Linked DNA regions of Homo sapiens: all the other regions are reported to be linked to region 1. Evidence: microRNA targets listed by miRTarBase, many of them from high-throughput screens and not tested one by one. Region 1 holds a microRNA gene; each other region holds the end of a gene's coding sequence.

Region 1 (4,000 bases):
TGTTGCACGAAGATTTATTATTCTGTTGGATGATTCTATTTTAATTTTATTTATTCTGGCCAAAAAAGAACCTTCTCCGCTCGTCAAGAGATGCCAATTTGTCTTGAAGGACAAGAGAAAGATGCTAACACACACTTTCTTCTTCTTGAGGAGTGAGAGAAGCACGGGTAAGGAAAACAATATATCTGGGGCTGATGAACCAAAGCAAAAAAATATATGCTAAAGATGGTTTTCTGCTCAAACTCTTATCCTCTTTGACCAGATCATGGTTGGTCACTGCAGTGTCAGAGGGACACAATTAAATAGACCATGTCCAGAGGACTGGGACTAGAAGAATGAATGGACCCAAAGCTTTGAAGAATAAGGGAAGAAAAATAAACTAGGGCTATGTAGACTACAACAGACTATGATCCATGCCGGGAATGATGATGTTGATCGTTTAATCTCGGTCCTGTGAAACAGTGGCTGGACTAATGTAACCTGGACAGTTCCAAGGAAAAAGAACTAAGCTTAATGTGTGGAACTTCCAGAGACTCCAATTTCAGAAGAACAGGGAGAGTTTTTTGATGAACAGAACTGTCTAGAGAAGAAGGAAACCTCCTTGTAAGACAGTGAATTCCTGACCAGCAATAATATTCCATCAGAGGCTCCACAGCCATCAGTGAAGGGCAAGCCTCTCTCTGGAGGCAGGGCTGGACTCTCTTAGAAGCTCCTGAAGCAGAGATTCTCTGGATCAAGGTCCAAGATGGCCAGAGTAGCAGGCTACCACTGCATTCTGAACCCTTAATCGCCGAGCACGTAAGTATGCTCCAGATGGAGAGACCTGCCCCAGGGCCCAACTGGAAGAGTTTGAGACCAGTCCCAAAGATAACTCTGACATTGAAGGAACCACGTCTCCAGATCAACTAGTCTCCAGCAGAGGAGAAAGAAGACCTCTTTTCTCCTCAAGAATCCTCCTCACTCCCAAGGAGGTCTGGTGCTTACCTACTGTCATTGCTTTGATGATGATGCTGGCTCTGGGGCTTTGTAGTCACTAGGGCACCATTTTGAAACAATGCACAATCATCTACTAAACGGAACCACTAGTGACTTGAAAGCCCCTGGGCCTTATCTTCTCTGTCACTTTTGATGATGGGTCCCCACCTATCCGGGAAAAGCTGAGGTGCAGAAAACCAAGAGGCAGGCCCATGGTTAGCTGGCAGAAGAGCAAGGCTCCCAAGTCAAAGGTAGTAAAACCGCTTCCCCAGAGTCCCCAAGAAAAAGGGCAAGTATTTTTAAGGTAGCCCAGCCCTCTGCCCCTGCCTAATACTGTGCAAGCAAAGCTCTAGCCACATGAGCATGAGCTTTCCCTCATCCAGAGACTGACTCAATAAATGAAACAAAAGCAGATTTTCTGCCTAGTCACATGGTAGCAGAACAAGATGCCTCTCACGACAAATGGCTGGTTGGGTGACTGGCTCCATCCACATTCTGGAAACGATGAGGGCAGTGCCTTCACTGCCCTGAACTTGGTCAGGATGTGTGAAGAGTGTTTCCAGGGTTGCTCTGGGAGCTACCCTGGGGAGGTCCCTTGGCTCCTCATTCAGGTCACCTAGGAACATAAGTGAAGGTGCTCACATCTAATTGGGAGCTGAAGTGTAAGATACCCAGGACCTTCCCCTTTAGTCTTTGTCAGAGAAAAGGTCAGAAAACCAGTGGCCACTATGTCTATGTGGAATCCACCATGAAGCCTTTGATAAGAATCTGTGCTTTTCAGACTTGTTCCTTTAAGATAAATGTCAATGCAGCAGCCAGTGTAGCTGCTGTAACTTCCTCCAGACTTTCCCAGCCTTAAACTAGCTGACATTAGAACTCTAGCCTCCACCTCCCACTACAATGGACTTTGCTTCCCATTCAACCAGACTGGATTGGTTCTGGGTATGGAGAACTCACACGAGCTCCATTCCCCAAAGTCATCCAAAGAGGTCAGAGTTGTAACCTCGAAACTGAAGGGTCTGCATGAAAAAGCCAGCTGCACATTCCGACAGCAGCAGAACTTTATCTACTTACCTAACCTCTCAAGGAGCTTGGCAAAGCACTTACTTCTTTGCAGATGAGACTGAGACATAGTTACAAAGTCTCAGTTTCCTCTGCAAACAGTTGTAAGTGCTTAGCAATTATAAGACAGGAGCCATGTCTTACAATGTTTGCACGGGATGACTGCAAAGCATTTGTATGGATGGCCATCTCCAATCATCCCTACCACCTTCCTGGACTTCCGCCAAGCCCTGGCACGCTTACCAACTGGGGTTGTGATTATTTCAGTTTTGTTGCTCACTCCTGTAAAATCAAACTGGAAGAGCTTCCAGGAGTTCTTCTCATTGATTTCAAGCTTGAAATTTTCCCACTTGTAGATCATCTCATTCTCAGGATAGGAAACTGGAAAGGAATGTGAGAAAGAGGGTCTTATGAGACTTGGAAGCCCACCTGAGGTCTCCAATAGCATGAAGTCAGCCTGCACAATGCCTTGGAGTCCTGTCTCTGGCCTCACCAGCTGTGGGACCTTGCCTCTCTTACCTCATTGTTGAAGTCCATTCAATGAGTGCGTTTACTGAGCATTCCTCAGTATCAGGCCCTAGGCCAGAAATACAGAGATGAGCAAGGCATGAACCCTACCCTCAAGCAATCACATTTAATTTTATAAGACAGTGAGTATACTACTGTGATTTTTGGAGGAGCTCTGAAAAACCTATGTCCACAGAACAGCGGGGAAACAAAGTAGATAAAGGTCACTTGGGGACATACTCAGAAAAGACTTCATAAAGCAGGTGATATTCCCATTAAATCTTGAAACTCAAGTAAATATTCTCAATAAGAATGAGGTTGAAGGGGTTAAGGGGCAGTATAGAAAGGTGAAACACCTGGTGTATTGTGGAAAGGACAAAAGTTCAGGATGGCTAGCTCACAGAGGATGAGGTGCACAGGATTGGGTGGCAGGGTCCAGTTCATGAATGGCCTTGAGGTTCATTCTAAGGAATTTCAAATTGATCCATGAGAGTTAACGGCAGATTCGAGACTAAGAAGTGACCCAACCTAGGTGACCCTTCAGCTAGGTCACTCTGGTCCTTCTGTGAGGACAACATGTTGTCAAGGAGGCCAGTGTAGTAATCCAGGCAGAATTAAATTAATGCAGGTGGAAGTCAAAGCTGTACAGGGTGCAGAGAAATAGACAGCATCGATAGAGACTGGGAGGAAACACCAACAGGATGTGCTGATTGATTAGATGCAGGAGGTGAGGGAGAGGGAACATCAAAGTTCTTGATTTGCGCAACTGGGTGAGTGATGGTCCTCTTCAATGAGACAGATGGGAACCCAGAAGCAACACACTTGTTTTGGTGGTAGAGGTTTGGAGGAGACAATGAATTTCATTTTGGACATGTGCAGTTTCAAAGTGAAGATGTGGCAAAAGTCCAGGTGGAAGATAACAAAGGCCTAAACCAAGGTAGTGCCAGTGGAGATGGAGAGGAGCAGACATACTTGAGATACGCTTCAGAGGCACGTGGAAGGGATGAGCAACACAGTATTGTTGGCAGGAAAGGAAATGAGGGTGGAGGATGGAAGTCCTGCACAACCTTGGCAGCATTTTAGAAGAAAAGCAGAGGCAGAAAAATGTAAATGGCAAGGATGAGAAAAAGAAGGAGCCCAGCATGTTTCTGGGGCCCCAGAAACTTAAGAAGGTACTCACAGCTAGAGAAAGATAGAGGGCAAGAGTGAGAATCCATTGGAAATCTGAGCATGTGGAGTGAGCATCCGGCATCAATGGTCATCCTGGAAGGGAGAAAGGAGCCTCATCAGGCTGGCCCTAAGCACTTCCGTATCCACCCAGCTTTGGTCTAGGGACTACCACCAATGAATGGCCAGAGTCAATTTTTTTCTTTGTTTGTTTGAGACAGAGTCTCACTCTGTCACCCAGGCTGGAGGGCAGTGGCGTGATGTCAGCTCACTGCAGCCTCTTGCCTCC
Region 2 (8,020 bases), not on the chromosome of region 1:
CTTGTCTTAAAGTGAAACCCTGAACCAGCTATTATCCAGCAACTGTCAAATAGTGATCAATGCAAGTGATATTTCCAAAAGCTTGTGTACTAAGGGATATACTAGAATGTCTAAGTTCTGTTTGTGCTTTAAGTTTGGACTATAAGAATACACCCAAAACAGCATGCTTGGACTGTAAGAATACATGCCCTCATGGGAATGTTTTCCAAAGTGACAATCAGCATATGCCACATTGATGTTATACCTCTTGTTGTTGGATTGAGAGGAAATGCTAGAAGTTGCTATATGGGGGATGTTTCTCCACCTTGTGCAAAGCCAGTTAAAAATGTAAAATATTCACATCAACATTTTTGGTACCCAAATTCAAGGGAAGAAAGCCAATTCCCCTCTAGAGCCTCCAGAAAGCAACACAGCCCTGCCAACCCCTTGGTTTTAGCCCAATGAGACCCATGTCAGATTTCTCACCTCCAGACCATAATGTAATAAATCTGTGTTGCTTTAAGCCACTTACAGCAGCTGAAGGAAGCTAATACAATGAGTTAAGTTTGAAGTACCTGTGGGACATTTAGGAGGAAAGCAACAAAGGGCAATGGGATCTTCTGCTCCAGAATGTGTTTCCTTTTTAAAGTTAAATATTGGGTTCCCAACCACATGCATCTTTCATGTGCAAGCTATGCCTCTTCAAGACTTGGTTTTACTATTAGTATTGCACATTGTACCAGATAACAGGGGAAACTGTGGTTGGGTGACTCGGGTTGTTAAATGATGACTGTAAAACTGTAAGAATGTGCCAGTCCGCAGCAAAAGCTTCTTGCACGACAAGAGTCAAGGGACAGCCCAGCATAAGGCTGGGGAACACAGCAGATCCATGACTTCCACATGATGCCTGGGTTGCAACCTTGCCTACTGACTCCCTAAACTACCTTTGTACACCAAATTCAGACTTCCCTGCTTCACCATCTGCAGGATTCACTTGTCATTTTTCAGAGAGGTGGCCCACCCCCTACAGTTCCACCAGGTCAGCAGCAGCAGCCGCGGCAGCTTTGTTCCACAGAGCCAGCCTGTGCAACAAGGAGTGTGATCTATATAATGTTGCTCTGATTTTATAAAAATGAGTGGAAATGAAAAAAAATGAATGTGGTGTTATCCATTAAAAGTGTAAGCCTCATAAAATTTAATAGAAATGAAGATGGAAACCCTTAGGAGTCAATTGTCATCTCAGTGGGATGCCCACAGGGACCTGAGCTGATGGACTGAGGGTCCTGCTGTGAAGGAAATTAAAGGAATCATTGAAAGGGGTCTACTAGGAAGACCATGCAGAGTGAGCATTTACTGAGTGCTTACTGTGTACTAGCACTTTACATCCATAACCTCATTTGATCAGAGGATGAAAGCATCAGCTGATTGGGTAGGTGCCATGCTTATCCACCTGGGAGGTTAGAAAGTTGTTTGGACTCAGAAGGCTTAAAAGGTTAAGTAGCTTAAGGAATCAGAACCAGTAAGTGGCAGAGCCAGAATTCAAGCCCAAGCAGCCTGACTCCTCCCCATGTCCCTGGTTGCCACCATCACCTCCCATTATCACCATCCTGACATCATCTCCCTATCTCTCTCTGCACTCCTTTTATCTTGTTCAGACTGGCCTCTGGGACATACCAGATGCCCTTCTGCCTTGGGGCCTTTGAACCTTCTTTCTTTTTAGAACACTTTTCTCCCAGATGCTTCTCATTCCTTCCCTCCCTTTGAATCCATAAATGTCTCAGTGAATCACATGGTCACCTCTCCTACAGTGGCTGGATGCGCTTTCCATGTGTCCCAGGAAGGCCCAGCCAGGACACGGGAGACAGACTGGGACTGGGTGTGGAGAAACCTTTGAGTCCCTCTGGGCTGGGGTCAGCTGCCCTGTGGAGGCCGGGAAACCAGTGCCTGGGGTGCTTTTGGCACTCCCCAGTCATGTGTGGAATTAGGTGGTACAGTAGTTTCACTTGCATGCCATGCAGTCTTCCCATTCATTGTGGCTGAACATCTGGTGGGTACTCATAAAAATTATATCATGGCCTATGCAGTGCCATGTGGAGCAAAGTGGATGGCTCCATCCTTCACAGGATGACCTTGAGGCTGGAGGGTGAAAGCAAGAAGACTTCCAGCCCCTCAGAATAGTCGTCTCCCCAGGGTCCCATTTCCCGGAGCCCTCAGTAAAAGGGCTGCATCCTCACGGCATGATGGGAAAACCGACTGACTTCAAGAACCTGAAGAAATCACACAGAACACAACAGCACCTCTCCGCACCCTCAGGACCTGGGAACCCTGGTCCTCAGCTCTACAGCTGGTAAGGGCTCATGGTGCCTTTGACTCTAACCTCTTTCATGGTGATTTACAGATCTTGGATGTCTCCTCTGCATGTTCAGGATTCAGATAGCCTGATGAGAAAGGCAGTACTGTTTCCAGATGAGGAAACCAAGGCTCAGATCGCTGGCTGTCTCAGCTTCATCTCACACTAGTGCTTCTCTGAGCCCAGACTTTTGGCTCCAAGAACAGTGCTCCCTCCAACACACTGGGACATCAGCACACAGTCTGTGAGGAACATGTAGTCGGCGGGTGCTTATTGTCAGACTGTGGCTCCAGAATTCAGAAAACCCCATGCTGAATGAATAAGCACTTCAAATTGGTTGGAGATGCATTCCCAAAACACCTCTCAGGGTAAGCCACGATGCTTCCCAACTAGTGCTGCTTCAAGATGTGGCTAAACACCTCCAACAAAATTCTCAGATAGAAAAGGCAAGAGCCATTATATTCATAAGTCAGAATTTATTTCATACCATCTCACTTATAGCATTTTCAAGTACAACATTCTGCTCAACATCATTTACACTTGAAAACAGAAAAGCACAACTTGGTAAGGCACCAGGTTACGATAGTCTGGAGAGAAGGCCTTGCTCCCATTTTGGCTTGTGTAATACCTGGGTAGTTTCTCTTGAGTCTGTCAAGCAGAGAACAAGGTTATAAAAGGTCCATTTATACATACATGGTAACAAGAGATAACAAACAGTTTTGAAGTATGCTGTATTTATAAATTATAATGGTGGCCTACACTTGTAGTTCAGCCAAAGTGGCATTCTCTAAAGCAAAATTCTTATAAAATCTTCTCTGCAATACCAAGCTGCAAGTTTAACAATTTTTTAGCTTTGAAGTGAACCAACTTTATATTTAACTCAAACACATACTTTAAAAACATTTTCGGCCCCAAACTCTATGTTCACGAAGAAATAAAAATGGAGGAAAATCTCAAGTATAATCGTACCTTTACTATTCTATAAAATGCAGCAATATATTTTAAAAACTGTTGCATTTAAAGGTCAACCCACTAGATTTTTAACACTAACAGTCCAAGGTGTTATCAACCCCACTTAAAATTCAACTGTATAAAGCTTTCAGAACTGGGCCACACAGGTGTACTTCACTGAGCACTTTCCACCCATGGCCTAAAGGCAGGAGGTGTGGAAGTCCCCTCCAGGGAGACCAACTGCAGCCCCATACACTGTCACACGCATAAAACTTCTTTCAAGTTTTGTGTTCTATCTTAAAAATGAATTTGCACTATACTCCATGCCATTTACTTTAATATAAAAATAGTGTTTCAAATCGCTTACCAGTTAAATAACTCATCTTCCCTCCCACACCTCCAGGCACCAGACAGGCAGAGCCCAGCCTGGGAAGCCTAGCTTTCCACAGATAGGTAAGCCAGGCGCGGCAAGATGAGACTGTATTCAGTTAGGTCTATTTTAAGCATTTCCACAAATCATTTTATTCCTTCAGGTTGTAACTAAATGCTTCAGGAAACTATGACCGACATCAATTCCAATGTGTTGAATAATCAATCAGTCTATGTATTTTAGTGGTTTAAAGATTAATCTTTTGTTAAACAAAGAAATTTGTTAATTTTATTTACTAACAGGAATAAATAGAACCCCTAACCTAAAGTATAACCTGATCTTTTACTTTTTCTATAGAAAAACACAAACTGGATTTCTTTTTAACATAAAAAAGACAACACAAAACCCACAGAAAAATAAAATTCTTCTATCTAACTGGCTTTACAGATTTCCCTCATTAGTTGTGGATGTGACTTTGGTGGCTCTGGGTCACCCACCGCAAGCCCGACCCTGCAACTGAGTGTTCAGGCTGCCTTGTGGTGTCTCGGAAGCATTCCTACCAGAGTAAAAGCTATTCTCCTGAGATGGCACCTTTTTCTCCAGAAGATTCAGCCCTAACAGCTGCCACCTTGAAGGATGTATTTCACTGTCACAGGAAGCAGCCAAGTATGGGGGCCATGGTCCCGGCATGCACCTGGCTGGCTACACGCCCCGCCCCTCAGGAGTCCTCAGAGTCCACTGGCCTCTGCTGCTACTGCCCTGAAAGCCATCTGTGGCTTTAACTGGTTGTTTTAACAGGTTTCAAGAGATGTTCATTTTATTTTTTGTTTAGATTTAAGATGTCCTAAAAAATGTATATATTAAGATACACTTAAAAACATACTCTGAATATAATAAAAAAGATGTTGGTTCAAAAAAGGGTCAACAAGAAGAGGAAGCCAAGCTTCCTAGCATCTGTTTTTGTGGCCACGCTTTTCCCCATTAATGGTGTGAAAGTCTGAATCAACAGCAAATACAGCCATACAGACCTATGTATCTGTGTGCATGAGTGTGCATGGGTGTGCACACAGAGAAGTACATCTTGGCCGACTTAAGAAAAAATTATCTGTGTTGTGTCCCACAAACACTTGCTGTTGGCCTTTCAAGAGTATTCACCTCCCTGCCGAAGAGACAGCTTGAGTATGGAGGTTTAAAAACAATCCAGACAGGTGCTCCCTGTTGCCCTCGTTACCTAGGATTGAGGCAGTTTGGTGCACGTATTACAGTACCGAAAGCAAATGTCACTTTCTGATCTCCACAGGAACCACTCCCTAAAACATGAAACTACTGACCAACACTTGCTTTCCTCCGCATAGCACTTTGTCTGTGTTCATATGTGTCAACACAACTGGACTAAGAAAGAAAAGTCCCAATAAGGAAGTTTCCTTTTTTGACTACAGAGTGCCATACAGTCAGTGGGATGTTTTCTGTTGGTTGTTTTTAAATCATAAGTAACTGGGTATTAGCAATTGACAAAAGTGACTGGTTTGAGGTTTTGTAGGCAGAGGTCTCTCACTTTTTTTCTCAGATTTTTGCTCCTTAAAAAAAAGGCATGGTTTGCATGGAGTTTCAAAGCTAAGAACTATTGTTACCATGGTTGACCTGTGTACATAATGCACTGTGCATTAAGTAGCCCTTAATCAAGAGAGGGTTAACCATAGTGTTCCTCCCTTTTGCTCTTCTGTACATTATAATGTAGCAGAACTTCATTCTTAACATCCAGATTAGAGGTGTCTTCTTCATATTAGATATAAATTAACCAGAGGTCTAGAACTCTAAATTTCCAGAGATGTGAAAAATGTTTAATTTACTTCAAAAATATCTTGCATAAGTATCTCATCCCTAAGCTCAAACAAACAAGAAAATTAAAGGCAGAAAGAATACATAAAATTGAGAGCTCCTCCTATAATACATATACACACACTCTCGATATAGGTTCTACGCAGTAAAAGGAGTTGTTTCAGCTAATATAGCTTCTAATATCGATTTCATCTGAAAATAGCCTTTCTGGGTGTCTTGCCAGCATCATACGAAACAGCAGTACTTCTTCCACCAGGACTTGGAGAGGTTTTTCATTTTATCTGGAGTCCTGCTTTTAGACTTCTTTGGCTGTTGCTGAGTGTCCGAGTATTGAATGCCAGCGACGATGGCTGCATCAAAGACCTCTTTGAGGTTTTTTTGAGTCAAGGCTGAACACTCGATGTAGGAGGCGGCTTTGATTTCCTCGGCGCACAGCTTAGCCGCCTCTTCAGGCACTGGCTTTTCTTTGCATTTGTCCAACTCAATGAGGACTTTGACATCTTCTCTGAGATCCGACTGCGTTCCAACTAGGATGATGGGGGCTTTGGGACAGTGGCATCGAATCTCCGGCACCCATTTCTCACTGACGTTCTGGAAGGATGAGGGGCTCACGACACTGAAGCAGAGCAGGAAGATGTCTGTGTTGGTGTAGCAGAGAGGCCTCAGCTTGTCAAATTCATCCTGCAACCAAGCAAAGTACCCAAAAGTTATGTTTTCATGAATTCTCATCAGTAAAAAGATCACCTTCACATTTTTCATGAAAGGGTCTGGCAGGTGATAGAAGACCCGCTGGTTCTAGAAGGAAGAGCCAGCATCCTTGAAACGATCCTACTGTTTACCCAAGCGGGGCCAGTGCACCAGCGAAGGTGTGGCAGCCATCTGCTTTCAGGGCCAGCTATGGTCTGAACACTGCCAAACATGTTCAACGTGTTCATCGACACTCAAGACCTACTTACAGCTTAACATAGAAAAAGTGCTCAAAGTAGGTGGGTTCTAGAAATAAAATGGACTTAAGCCTTCAGCTGAGTGTAACCCAAACCTACTCTCAACTCTTGGTACTTAGCTACTCTTCTAAAATTCAGACCACACCCATATTGATCCTCAAGACTCCCACTCAAACCCAGTCTACGAACACAGCTCCTCTCTTTATCAATCCAGCCCTGCCTTTCCCAACAGCTCTGAGTGATGCCAATTTCATCCCATCTGCACTGTGCACACGCTCTGCCCACACTATGCACAGCAACGCAGAGTAATGCTAATCAGACTCAAGGCCAGACCAGAAATGGAGTTGAGGACCTTTGTCAGTCCATTGTCATCGTGACTCAGAAAACTTTTGCAGCTCAGTGCCACTTACAGACACTAGTTAATACATCCTCATTCTGGCTGTATCTTCTCTTCCTCCCTCCTTCCTTCATTTTCTCCTACTTCCTTTATCCTTGCCAGTACCCATGGCCTCCATGTACAGTGCTTTGGACAGATAAGAACTGGAGAATAGGCACGCCCACCCTACCCTTAAAGTATAGAGAAGTGGATAGAATAAGTTAGAGTTGATTACAAATAAACCAACGGTTGTGCTGCCAATGCTCTCCCGTGGTCATCCATTTAACAGACACACTGAACATCACCTACACTCAAGGCACAGTGGCAGGCGAGGGGATTTGGCTGTGAACAGACAGATGTTGTTCTCCAAATTACCATTTCTTTACAGAAAACATCCTATAGTTCCCTGTAGCACCATATTCAGCTAACTGACAACTTTTGCTCAACTCTTTTGTAGAAAAATATTTACTCTTTCCTATGTAAAATGTATATCTGTTGGTGCCAACCATCCTCAGGTATAAATAATTTCCCAATGACAAGAAAAAGTTCAACGCCATTCATGTTTTTCATTACTCAATTGACACACTCCGATTATTTACCAAGTACCATTTACATCACATTATACTCCATCCGTGGCTTTTTTCTCTTGGTATAAAAGAAACCTGTAACTTATTTGAATGTACTTTCTTCATTTGAGGCCCCATGTTTCAATTACGGGACGACAGCCAACCAACTAATCACATTAAAGTCAACCAGCTAAAATGCTCAGCAATCAATGTGGTATTTCAGAATGTCACTTGTGAGGCTTCTGTAAGCGAAAGTTGAAAAAGTATGACTTAGCCAAATGTGGTGGCACGTGCCTATAGTCACAGTTACTTGGGAAGCTGAGGCAGGGGGATCACTTGAGCCCTGGAGTTTGAGACCAGCCTGGGTGACATACCAAGACCCTGCTCTCTAAAAAAAATTTTTAAAAAGAAAAATAATGACTTAAGTTTCTTCATGCCAACTTTGTGATGAATAAATAAACACAGAAACACAGCCAGGTAGACTATGGCTCAGTCATGAAGATCTTTTAATGGAATGCTCCCTCTGTTCTTAGAGGGCCTCAAAGAAAGAAGCATAAAACTGAGACCAGTATTAAGGCAGCCCCCTCAGGTAGCTGCACCCCTGGCCATGCCCTGGTATCTGGGGTTGCATTACTGAGAAAAATA
Region 3 (4,000 bases), not on the chromosome of region 1:
TGGCACGAGGAAGTCTCCAGAAATGCCAGTAATCCTGGAAGTGTCCCTGGAAGGATCCCATGACACAGCCAATTGTGAGGCATGCACTTTGGGCATCTGTGGACAGGGCTTAAAAAGCTGCATGACAAAGCCGTCCAAATCCCTACTCCCCCACCTAAAGACTGGGAATTCCTCACCTGGAATTGGTGCTGTGTACCTCGCAAACCAAGCCAAGAACCAGTCAGCTGAGGCAAAAGAGGCTAAGGGGAGTGGGTATGAGAAATTAGGGCCCAGTCGAGACCCAGATCCACTGAACATCTGTGTCTTTATTTTGCTGCTTGTATTTATTGTAGTCAAATGCTTTACATCAGAATGATGAAAATAGGCTTGCCACTTTCTCTTATTTTAATTCCATGGTAGTCAATGAACTGGCTGCCACTTTAATATAACTGAAAATTCATTTTGAGACCAAGCAGGATCAAGTTTGTAGAATAAACACTGGTTTCCTAGCCATCCTCTGAAAACAGTATGAAACATGACCAAGTACATAATGGATTTAGTAATAAATATTGTCGAATTGCTAAAAAGTCTTCAATCATTCATTCACTAAGTCACTCAGTGATATCAATATACTTAGCTCAGAAAGTGTGGGAGGCTGAATAATGGTGTCTCCCAACATATGCATGACTTAATCCCCAGAACCTGTAAACATGTTACTTTACATGGTAGAATGGACTTTGCGGATGTAATTAAGGACCTTGAAATGGTTAGATTATTTCATATTGTCCGGGTGGATAAGAACCAGGATTTTGTAACAGGGAGGCAACAAGCTCAAAATCAGAAAAAAGAGATTTGTCAATGGAACAAGAGGTTGAAGTGCTTTGAAGTTGGAGGAAGAGGTCACAGGCAAAAAAGTACAGGCAGCCTTTAGAAACCCAAAAGGACAAAGGAACAGATTCTCCCCTGGAGTCTGCAGAAGGAACCAGCCCTGCCTGCACATGGCTTTAGCCCAGTGACACTGATTTTGGACATCTGACCTTCAGAACTGCTTGCTCATAAACTTGTCTTGTTTTAATGCACTAAGTTTGTGGTAATTTATTAGAGAAGCAATAAGAAATGAATATAGTTATCAATACTACAGTATGAATCAGGGAATTATGTTTTAGGTATGCTTCAGGTTTGATAGAAAAAAGAGCACTTTATACATTAGAAATACCAGTCAGCCCCATCTCCTCTTGTTCTTCTTTCTCCCCTACTTAAACCCACTCAAATATCTCCATCTCAAAGAGATTCCCTTTGATTTGATGATCCTTGGAGCTATCATATTCTCACTTCTTTCAGCATTGGATTGGGAATCACAGAAGAACTTGCCAATCCTGAGATCCTCTGATGCATCCTTCACCTCCTATTTTCATCTGTCTGCTAGGCATTTCTGTGTGGCTGTCATGTTTAAAGCCAAGCTCAACGCCTCTGACTCTCCTGTTTTAAATCCCCCAAGTCGCCCAAACTTTTCACCTCAGAGTCATCTTCAACCTCTCCTGATCAGCAACACTTATTCCCTTCTTTTGTCAAGTTACTCCCATCTCTTCCTTCTACTTTTCCTTGTCATCCTCTCTCCTCACCTAGTTCAAAATTATTGAAAAACGAGGGGATTTGGACTTTATCCCATAGGCAATGTGGAGTCATTGCAAGCATTTGAGGATATGGGCAAGTTGAGTAGAACCACATTTTTAAAATACCATCTATTTTTTGGGAAAGAATGGAGTACAGAATAGAAATAGTGAGAAGTCTGTCTTGCAATAGAATAGTGGGAAACACAGAAAGAGGGTCCTGTACACAATAAATATCTTGAAAGAATTTGAAGACAAATATAAGCGACCAAAAGACCTAAGGATGAAAATATCTCCCTTCTTTCTGCCCATCTCTTCATTTTATTTCAGGATCCCCCTACCAGTGCTCTCTCTGTATACATACCCCCTCCCCAAACCAAACCACACTATTGAATTCCTGAATTCCTCCTGTTTTCTTCACAAAGAACATTGGCCTGGGGATCTACATGAAAATATTATTTATAGCCTAGCAATGCTGTATGACCTCAGCAAGTCATAATCCCTTCCGGGGCCTTAGTTTCTCCATCTATAAAATAGGTGGGGGTAAAACATGGAGAGTTGATCACATATATTTACCTCTGATCTCTCTTGAAACCACACTGAGTGACAGCAAAAGGAAATAAAGGCATCAATAGAGAAGGGCAAGGAGAATGGTTAGAAGATAGAACACTGATGGACTAGTGGCAGGTAACTGACTTAGCAGAGTAGGGTGAGCCAGAATATAAGTTTAGTGTGGAAAAACCAAGATGTGATTCATGTTGCACAATTCCAGAAAGGCTCCAGACTGTAGGATGAAGTAGCTCTGAAAGTGGGCACTGGGAAGGCAAAAGTGGGAGTGTTGGCTGAAAGACTATACCAAATTTCTTTCCCCTCTCCGAGGCAGCCTCGTAACCACACTTTACCCAACTGAGGGAGAAGAATGGAGGCTGCTTCTCTGAAGACATTTCTCATAGGGACTATGGCTCAGGGAAATCCTTAAGAGAGGAGGAGCCACAAGCAATCAAAAAGACCATGGTTGTTCACATACTGACTAATGAGACCCTCTTACCCCACTATCAGCCCTTGGAGCTGTTTTATAACCTACCTGCCCATCCCTCATAGACACATAACAGTGGAGGACTCCTTTTCTAGAAAAATGGATCTGCTCAAGATAAAAGAAAATATGTACATTGAAAGGGGGTGGGGGCCCCAATTCCGATAACCTCAGAGTGAACCCATCGGATGGAATCTCCTCCGCCAGAGCTTGCAGGTGGCTTTTTAAGGTCTCATATTTGCACCTTAAATGTGACTGGACAGACTGCCAAGGGATTCTCAAATGTTTGATAAAGTCCCCTAATATAAAGGCAAAGAAGAAAAAAGGTTAAAACAAAAAAGACTCTGAAGAAATAGAGATGATTACAGGATAAGAAAGCCAAAAAAACATTTAAAAAGTAAAACTATTATACCTCAGTGAGGTAAGAGAGGGTATAATATTCATTAGACAAGAATTAGACATCATCCTTTGGGATAACCCTAGATGAGACAGCTACCTTTGGCTGGAATCAGATCTGTGGTAGAGTCTCAGCTACAAGCATCCAATAGGCAATGTTCCCAAAAGCTTGGACAATGAGCACCTTAGTCCTCAAGGAAGTGATGTGAGTGGTGCACCACAGCCTCCACTACAATCCACATCTTGCAAAACTCAAATCTACTTGCTTTGTATAAAAAGTCTACATCTGGAGAAAGGTCTTCTGGGATTCTTTTCTGGCAGAAACATACAAGAGGAAGGTTAGTGGATAAATTTAGCCCCTACCACTGCATCTGGTCTTGGGACAGCAGATGTACACCCATAATCTCTTTTTTCTACCTCCAGTTCTTGATTTTCCTTATCCTAACACCTCTGCTGGTTTAGGTGGCTTACCTATAAGGCTATCCAAATGCTTATCGTGAGGACTGTGAGCCCTGGGTCACCACGTCCTTCTCAGTCTGTGGCTTCTTCCCTTGTCCATCTATTAAATATTATCAAACTTAGGGAAATACCAAGAGATGCGCCAGTGAATCAGTTGGGTGCAAACATATTCTTCCCACACCCATTGTTTAATAGTAGTCCTATTTCCCTCTGATGATCAGGAAGATAACTCTTTTTTGTTTAAACTTTTATTTTAGGTTCAGGGGTCTATGTGCAAGTTTGTCATATAGGTAAATTTGTGTCATGGGGGTTTGTTATACAGATTATTTCCTCACCCAGGTATTAAGCCCAGTATCCATTACTTATTTTTCCTGATCCTCTTCCTCCTCCCACCCTCTGCCCTCTGGGAGGCCCCACTGTGAGTTGTTCCCTTCTATGTGTCCATGTGTTCTCATCATTTAACTACCACTTACAAGTGAGAACATGTGGTATTTGGTTTTCTGTTCATGCATTAGTTTGCTAA
Region 4 (8,020 bases), not on the chromosome of region 1:
GGTCTTTCACAGTGCCACTGAATTCCATAACATTAATTAAACATTAATTAAAAACAACTAATGTTCAAAGGCCTTAGTACTAACTTAAAGCAACAGAATCTTCAAAATCACTCTGACTTACCTTACTCTGGGATAGCTGTGTTTATAGCATGTAACAGACTTGAATACCTCTTAAACTAACTTTTTTTTATTAATTGTTAGATGTCTGTGGTTGCATTAAAAGGTTAAGTTTAATTTCAGTAATTATAAACTAATTTGCTCTTCTTTTTCTAGGTCTAATTTAAATATTTTCAAATATCTTCAGATAATTTGACAGTTTACTTAACTAATACATAGTATGTTTCCTTAGACTGTCTGGGTTTCTTACATAGTCGGTCATTCAAGAGTGCTTCACCCCAAGATGGAATGAAAAAAAAAATCCAAGCAAACATGAAAGTCTCTATTTATAGCTAACAGTGATCAAGCAGATATTTTTGGTTTGTGAACAAATTATATGTTCATATTAAAGTTAGTATAATTGTATCAGAGTAATTATTTTAGCATATGTTTATGCTAATTATTACATTTTCCTATATCCTAGTAGCTACCTTTTAATCCTGAATTAAGAGAAAATTATGAGACAAAACATATGAGTTTAAAGTTAGCTATTTAGAAAATATACACTTCTAACTATTTTTTAGATAGAAACTCTTACATTTTTAACATGTAACAACTATTTATGAGGGATTGGAGGAAAAGAACAGAAGAATACAGATCAGTGGGAGATTAGAGTTATCCTGGCATTTGCAGCAATCCTGTATGTCTCTGGGGATCCTAGTTTGATTAAAGACAAAATATACAAGGAATTTTGGAGTCTACTTGACCCTCCGAGCTAAGCATATGAACCATATGAAGGTCGTGTTGGCTCACTGAAAGCCATTTGCTATTTATTATTATTTTTAAAAAGCACCTTATTCACATTGTCCCATGTGTCTATTTCAGGTGTACGATGGGAAGTCCAGTCTGGAGAGTCCAACCAGATGGTCCACATGAATGTCCTCATCACCTGTGTCTTTGCTGCTTTTGTTTTGGGGGCATTCATTGCAGGTGTGGCAGTATACTGCTATCGAGACATGTTTGTTCGGAAAAACAGAAAGATCCATAAAGATGCAGAGTCCGCCCAGTCATGCACAGACTCCAGTGGAAGTTTTGCCAAACTGAATGGTCTCTTTGACAGCCCTGTCAAGGAATACCAACAGAATATTGATTCTCCTAAACTGTATAGTAACCTGCTAACCAGTCGGAAAGAGCTACCACCCAATGGAGATACTAAATCCATGGTAATGGACCATCGAGGGCAACCTCCAGAGTTGGCTGCTCTTCCTACTCCTGAGTCTACACCCGTGCTTCACCAGAAGACCCTGCAGGCCATGAAGAGCCACTCAGAAAAGGCCCATGGCCATGGAGCTTCAAGGAAAGAAACCCCTCAGTTTTTTCCGTCTAGTCCGCCACCTCATTCCCCATTAAGTCATGGGCATATCCCCAGTGCCATTGTTCTTCCAAATGCTACCCATGACTACAACACGTCTTTCTCAAACTCCAATGCTCACAAAGCTGAAAAGAAGCTTCAAAACATTGATCACCCTCTCACAAAGTCATCCAGTAAGAGAGATCACCGGCGTTCTGTTGATTCCAGAAATACCCTCAATGATCTCCTGAAGCATCTGAATGACCCAAATAGTAACCCCAAAGCCATCATGGGAGACATCCAGATGGCACACCAGAACTTAATGCTGGATCCCATGGGATCGATGTCTGAGGTCCCACCTAAAGTCCCTAACCGGGAGGCATCGCTATACTCCCCTCCTTCAACTCTCCCCAGAAATAGCCCAACCAAGCGAGTGGATGTCCCCACCACTCCTGGAGTCCCAATGACTTCTCTGGAAAGACAAAGAGGTTATCACAAAAATTCCTCCCAGAGGCACTCTATATCTGCTATGCCTAAAAACTTAAACTCACCAAATGGTGTTTTGTTATCCAGACAGCCTAGTATGAACCGTGGAGGATATATGCCCACCCCCACTGGGGCGAAGGTGGACTATATTCAGGGAACACCAGTGAGTGTTCATCTGCAGCCTTCCCTCTCCAGACAGAGCAGCTACACCAGTAATGGCACTCTTCCTAGGACGGGACTAAAGAGGACGCCGTCCTTAAAACCTGACGTGCCACCAAAGCCTTCCTTTGTTCCTCAAACCCCATCTGTCAGACCACTGAACAAATACACATACTAGGCCTCAAGTGTGCTATTCCCATGTGGCTTTATCCTGTCCGTGTTGTTGAGAGGATGATGTTGTAAGGGTACCTTAAAACAAGAGACTCGCTTGTATTTTAAGAGAACCAAGTGGCCAAAGAAACTCTTTCTAACTTTGGCAACATCAGAACTTGCCACATGTAGCTACTGCAGCAAGGCTTCTGTGTACTTGCCTGAAAACAAAGGAAGGTGCTGGTCATTCCATTTCTTTTGTTTGAAGCTAAAGAGATGTGTAGCTCACAGGGGCTACCTTACCAGTATAAAGAGCTGATAACAGTACTCAGAAGAATCTGTGAACAAATACTTGAAAATGGGTTCAATGTAGACTGCCATTATGTGTGGTCTTCCCATTAAATGTGAACATTTTAATATGTATGCATTCACCTTGCCTCTTGCACAAATGTCAAAAAAAAGATGGTAATATCTCAAAGAAATGAACTTGTAGATTACCAAGCAGTTTGCTAAAAATTCAATCTTTGACCCAAGCTGTAGCATTTTTTTTTCATGTGTGGCATCTTTTTCATGCCACCAACAAACTTGTTGTGTGTGTGCGTGTGTGTGTGTGTGTGTGTGTGTGTGTGTGTGTTCTGTACCCACTAGGATTTGTTTAGGTGCCCATTGCATCTTTTTGTGCTATGGAGTTGTTTACATTAAGCATGACCGAACGAGAGACAATACTATTTCCCACAGGAGTCCATTGGGTTCAGCTTTGAAAGAGGAATAGAATCGAGGCTCCTTTGACCATCAAAATGATGAACTTTACTTATGTGGTACCCAATGCCAGAATGTAAGAGTTGCAAGTGATTTTGTGCTGCTATTCATTAAAACTTGTATTCCAGTCTTGCCAGCTTAAGGAGATCAAGATATTAAGAGGTATCCTTGATTTATTTTCCAGTATTCAGTAGTAAAATTTTCCTGTCCACTGTGAATCAAAGCCTGAGTCACTCTATTTAACCTTGGACACACTAATAAGGTTTTATTTTGATTGTGTTCGTTTCCCCCCCCCCAATAGTAAAATTTCTCCTCCTTTAACTCCTCCTACCCCCCAAGGTAAGAAACAAAAAACAAACAAACAAACAAAAATAGAAGACAAAAGAAAGACATATGAAAGGAATTGTAATTGGCTTAACAGAAACAGTCTGTAAAAACCTAACAGTGGTGCAATCATGTTGTCTGTGTTGTGTTATGTGAGAATTTTCTCCTAAGTCATGCAGGTAATGACAATATACTGTAAATACCACATGTGAGTTTACCTGAATCTGTGCATTTTGTGCCTTATTCATGAGAATGATAGAAGTACTAAAATCTGTCAAGTGTTTTCAGTATAGCACATTATTTACTGAGTGCCAGTTGTAAATGTTTTTCAACCAGCACCTAAAAAGACTCTTTTCAAAAAATCACAGAAACAACCTAGGACAATTATTTGTTACATAATCCGACCTCATAGCAGCATTACATTCTTTGCCGTGATAAACATTCCACTCCTGCTTTCCTAAGGATGAAACAGTGATAATGTGAACTCAAATGAGGTTTCCTGGGTAATGTGACACCTGCAGAAACTATAGAGCGTCATTTATACGTAGTTTGGCAGAAACCACTTACGGCTGATGATGCGCAACCCTGCTGACTGTTTCAGTTAATATGCTGCACACCACACACTTGTTTAGTGAACCAAATCTAGAAAGTACCAAGGCAGAGGTATGCTCCTGCTGTAATCAGGCAAATGAGTTCAACTGGATTTCTTTTGACAATACTGTTGGTACCTATTACTTGGGGGAGGACATGTTGCAGAAGACCAGATCATTTTTATACAGAATGTGAAATACTGATACAGTTATTCTTTTTTTTAAAGAACATTGTTTTATAAAGAACGTGATTTCCAGTGATCTCTGGAAGCGCTAAAGCTAAAATTTCTGTTCTTGAAACACTTCAGCTTTGCAACTAAAATATTACAGATTAATAATAAATTAAACCAACCAATGATAAACACTACTCAGTCCACCAACAACAAACGTGTTTGAATTCACCTTACCAATATTAATCCCAGCGTGTGTAAAACAGAACAGTAACTCTATGTGACCCCAGATAACATTTTGTAACATTGTGCTTCCTTGTAGTTTGTAATGTGAGTTCAATCAGTATTTATGTTGAAATTTCTAACATTAAATCTAGTCTCTATCCTGTTAATTTAATTTTTAAATGCTTTATCCATTTGTGCAAAGGTAAACGCAGATTGTATCTTTTTTAATGGTACGGCATAAAAAGTAACCCTCAAGTGAAGTGTCTCTATACTGTTTTATAGAGTACTTTAACATGAATAGATACCTTGTAAACTTGTATTGTGGATGTGTAAATAATATGTACTTTGGGTTTTTAACACCGCATGTAAAGTCAAAATAAAATATACAAATCATTATATCCTGCCTCTTGATATTGAAGAGGTTTATAACATGTTATATTTTTAAAATATTTTTAAGTCAATCAACACCAGTAATAGTTGCTTTTAAAATCTGCCAAAATATTCTTATCTGGAACAGTTGCTCTCCAGTCATGATTACACTACCATTCTCTCCTTGGAAGGCTGACACTGGAGGTCAGAGCCCCTGAAAAAAATGAGAAACTGTTCAGAAAACCAGTTGAACTGTACTACGTCAACAGTCATATGCTTTAGGCAAACAGTAGTGGTTCACATTGTCCATAGATCTATCTAGTTCAACAGACATTTTTAAAATTCATGATTTGTTTTCCTGCGTGAAATTTTTCACGTAATAGTTCAAAATTATAACTGGCAAACAGGGTTCCCGTGAACATTTCTTGCTATTTGGTATAAGGAGTTTCTCAGTTCCCTTGTTTTAAACAAATAGAATAAATTAGGAGCTCTCTTCCCTAAATATTGAAATGAGAGGTAACAATATGATTCCATGGCTTGCTCTTAGCACGTAATGAGTTGGTGGCTGCTGTCATTGCTTCTCGTGGATGTTGACAGTGGCAGGCCACTTCTGAGAGAGACAACAGGGGTAGGCTGTAGCAATCCCTGCCCTCTTGTTTCTAGCTGCTACTCCTGGCCAAAGCCCATCTGCAGCTCCCATGTGGTCATGTTTTCTCAAGGAGCTTCAGCAGCATCTTTGCTGAACAGCAGAATGGCCATATTCCTGTCTCGAGTCTTATTCTCCTTGATAGTGTCATCTAATTAGGGGTGCTGCATTTCAGTGTCAATTTAGTGGTATCAGAAGTCCTTGTTTATTCCTATCATAGCATGCAATACTCCAGAGACATGAGGAAAAATTTGAAGGAATCTTTTTGTGAGAGAAGAAGACCAGGGGATGGCCTATTTGCCCCATTTCACAGCTCCTGGCACCACAGGTGGTGCCACCAGCCACAGAACCTGACCTTGGCCTTCCAAACTACCCTATCATTGGAAGGAAGTCTGCGTAAGTGCACACCATTATAGTGCTGGAGAAGAGGGTGGAAGGTGTCTCCCATCTTACTGACTTGCAGAAGTCAATTTGTAACTCAGATTTCGAACAAATGGATGAAAGAAGACACAAGGGAAATGCATCTCCAAGCTTGTCTCACTCTGTCGCCCAGGCTGGAGTGCAGTGGCACGATCTCGGCTCCCTGCAACCTCTGTATCCCGGGTTCAAGCAATTCTCCTGCCTCAGCCTCCTGAGTAGCGGGGATTACAGGCACAGGCACTCACCACCATGCCCAGCTAATTTTTGTATTTTTAGTAGAGAAGGGGTTTCACCATGTTGGCCAGGTTGGTCTCGAACTCCTAACCTCAGGTGGTCCACCTACCTCAGCCTTCCAAAGTGCTGGGATTACAGGCATAAGCCACCACACGCAGCCTCTTCCTAGGCTTCTTTAGCATTGCATTATCATTCATTTGCATTGCCTGTTTCCATTAAATTGGTGTTTATTATACCTACTGCCTGTTTACTAGTTTTTCTGAGTTCAACGATTTTTTTCTCTTCTAAAAAATGCACCTTTCTTTTCTCCCTTATAGAAGTTCTTAGCCTTATTCCATCATAGACATTTTTGATAATTTAATGAATGCTATGGACTGAAAGGCGCATTTCCCTTTCCTCTCCAGGACATTTACAGTCCCCTAAAATCACATCTATGAATCCTCAAGATAAATGCTCAGATCCCATTTGAGAGAAGTAGGGTAAGGGAACTTGGGACTTTTTTCAAAGGGAGCCCATAAAACCAGAGAGTAATGGGACAAATACAATAACCAGGACAAGGCACTGTGCTCTGGTTCCAGAAATGCCATCGACTAAGCACTTGGTTACCCTGGGAAGGGGCAACTTTGAAGCCAGATGGAACACTTGAAATGCTGATACAGGCTAAGAAGAAAGGGCATCTCTTCTTCTGCCAGGTAGTGGTATGATGGCCCAGGTGCTGGTCTGGAACCAGGACTCACCTTCCTGCCATCAGAGAGATTTCAACTTTCTCATCTTCTCCCAGCTGGTCTCTCTCATCTCCTTGTCAGAGGACGGCAAAGAACAAAGTGTCCAAAGCAGCCCTAGGTCCAGGTCCAGGGAGCTGAGTTCTAATCCTCACTCCATCACTCATCTAGTGATTAAGGGGCACTCCACCTCTCCTGACTTTGGTAAAGAGATGATTTGACATCCATGTCTCTGACAGTTCTATGGTCTGTGTCAACTCTGCAAATTCTATTATTTTATGAATGCTATGCTTAACTATTGCAAGTTCAATAGCTTGGTTGGTAGTATGTTTATGGATGCATGAGGCCTGCTCCCTGTTAGATATAAGGTATATGTGAGATTAACAAGTAAGTTATGATAAACAGTGCACTTTTAAGTCATTTACCTTGGATCTATTAATATATTTGATGCTTACACTGTTTGCATATATAACATGTGAAACACTTAAATCTCTGCCAGTGTTGCATTTTTTAAATCAAATAGATGTGGTATCATAAACAAAGAGGAATGGACCTATAATAAAATCAATCTTTAATTCTTGGGGGGATGGAGGGTGCAAGGCTGGAGTGGGAGGTAATGACCATTCAAATGGTGAATCAACTAGAATTCATATATAAAGAAAAATAGCATATTGTTAGCCCCTGTCTCATGATATAATTCTTTTTAAAAATTAGATATTGATTACTGGTTGATAAATCTCATTTTAACATGCATTTGAGTACACTTAGCCTCATATGCAGGGTTTAGGTAAAGGAAAGTATGAAAATACAGCATTATATATGCGCTGTTACTTGTGAGAGTTCTTCATTAGTGTGAGATGGACCTACCCAATGCTACTGTAAAGACTGACTTCAGACCAGTTAGAGCAGTGGTAAGAAGGAAGATTTGTCAGTTTCAAGCAGCGCTGTGCAGTGGAATGTTCCATGCTGATGCAGGTTCTAAATCTGTGCTGTCCAACCTAGTAGGTTAGCATATGTGGTTACTGAGTACTTGAAATGTGGCCAGTATTTGTGAGGACTTAACTACACTGGGCAAAGCCATCTACAAGGCCACCCCTCCTCTGGCACTACTGTAAGAGGGTAGGCTATGGCTCCAAATACAGCAATTTCATGAGGTATTTAACTCTGGTTAAAAGATAAAACATGCCTTGTACATTTTGTGTATCTACTCTGGGGCTTCACAGAGAGTTGAACTCACAATTGATCACCCGATCAATCATAGATCTAGTTTGAGGTCTGTTTTCTGATTTAGAAACTGCAATAAGCACATCCATTGACCG

What was found. Region 1 holds the annotated microRNA hsa-miR-452-5p (AACUGUUUGCAGAGGAAACUGA, at 2,120-2,141, opposite strand). A microRNA usually pairs through its seed, bases 2 to 8, with sites in the 3' UTR of a target mRNA and lowers its output. Matches are read on the target gene's strand: a 7mer-m8 pairs with bases 2 to 8, a 7mer-A1 pairs with bases 2 to 7 and ends in A, and an 8mer does both.
Region 2: the mRNA of RHOU is a reported target of hsa-miR-452-5p. The part of its 3' UTR that is shown has no 7-base or 8-base seed match.
Region 3: miRTarBase lists RTP4 as a target of hsa-miR-452-5p. Seed matches in the 3' UTR shown: 8mer at 501-508.
Region 4: the mRNA of SEMA6D is a reported target of hsa-miR-452-5p. Seed matches in the 3' UTR shown: 7mer-A1 at 2,563-2,569, 7mer-m8 at 3,423-3,429, 7mer-m8 at 3,792-3,798 and 7mer-A1 at 4,352-4,358.

What each region holds. Positions count from the first base shown.
Region 1 is chrX:151,957,559-151,961,558 of GRCh38, forward strand. MIR452 (microRNA 452) reads right to left here and starts at 2,154; the gene lies at 2,070-2,154. It overlaps GABRE (gamma-aminobutyric acid type A receptor subunit epsilon), which reads right to left. Exons shown (of 9, transcript NM_004961.4): 5 at 3,725-3,807; 6 at 2,281-2,418. It overlaps MIR224 (microRNA 224), which reads right to left and starts at 1,100; the gene lies at 1,020-1,100.
Region 2 is chr1:228,741,435-228,749,454 of GRCh38, reverse strand. It overlaps RHOU (ras homolog family member U), which reads right to left. Exons shown (of 3, transcript NM_021205.6): 3 at 2,791-6,170. The coding sequence ends at 5,715. Among named protein-coding and RNA genes, the nearest start is that of RHOU, 10 kb to the right of the region's middle.
Region 3 is chr3:187,371,019-187,375,018 of GRCh38, forward strand. It overlaps RTP4 (receptor transporter protein 4), which reads left to right. Exons shown (of 2, transcript NM_022147.3): 2 at 1-1,058. The coding sequence ends at 355. Among named protein-coding and RNA genes, the nearest start is that of RTP4, 4.6 kb to the left of the region's middle.
Region 4 is chr15:47,769,516-47,777,535 of GRCh38, forward strand. It overlaps SEMA6D (semaphorin 6D), which reads left to right. Exons shown (of 19, transcript NM_001358351.3): 19 at 982-4,713. The coding sequence ends at 2,270. Among named protein-coding and RNA genes, the nearest start is that of SEMA6D, 56 kb to the left of the region's middle.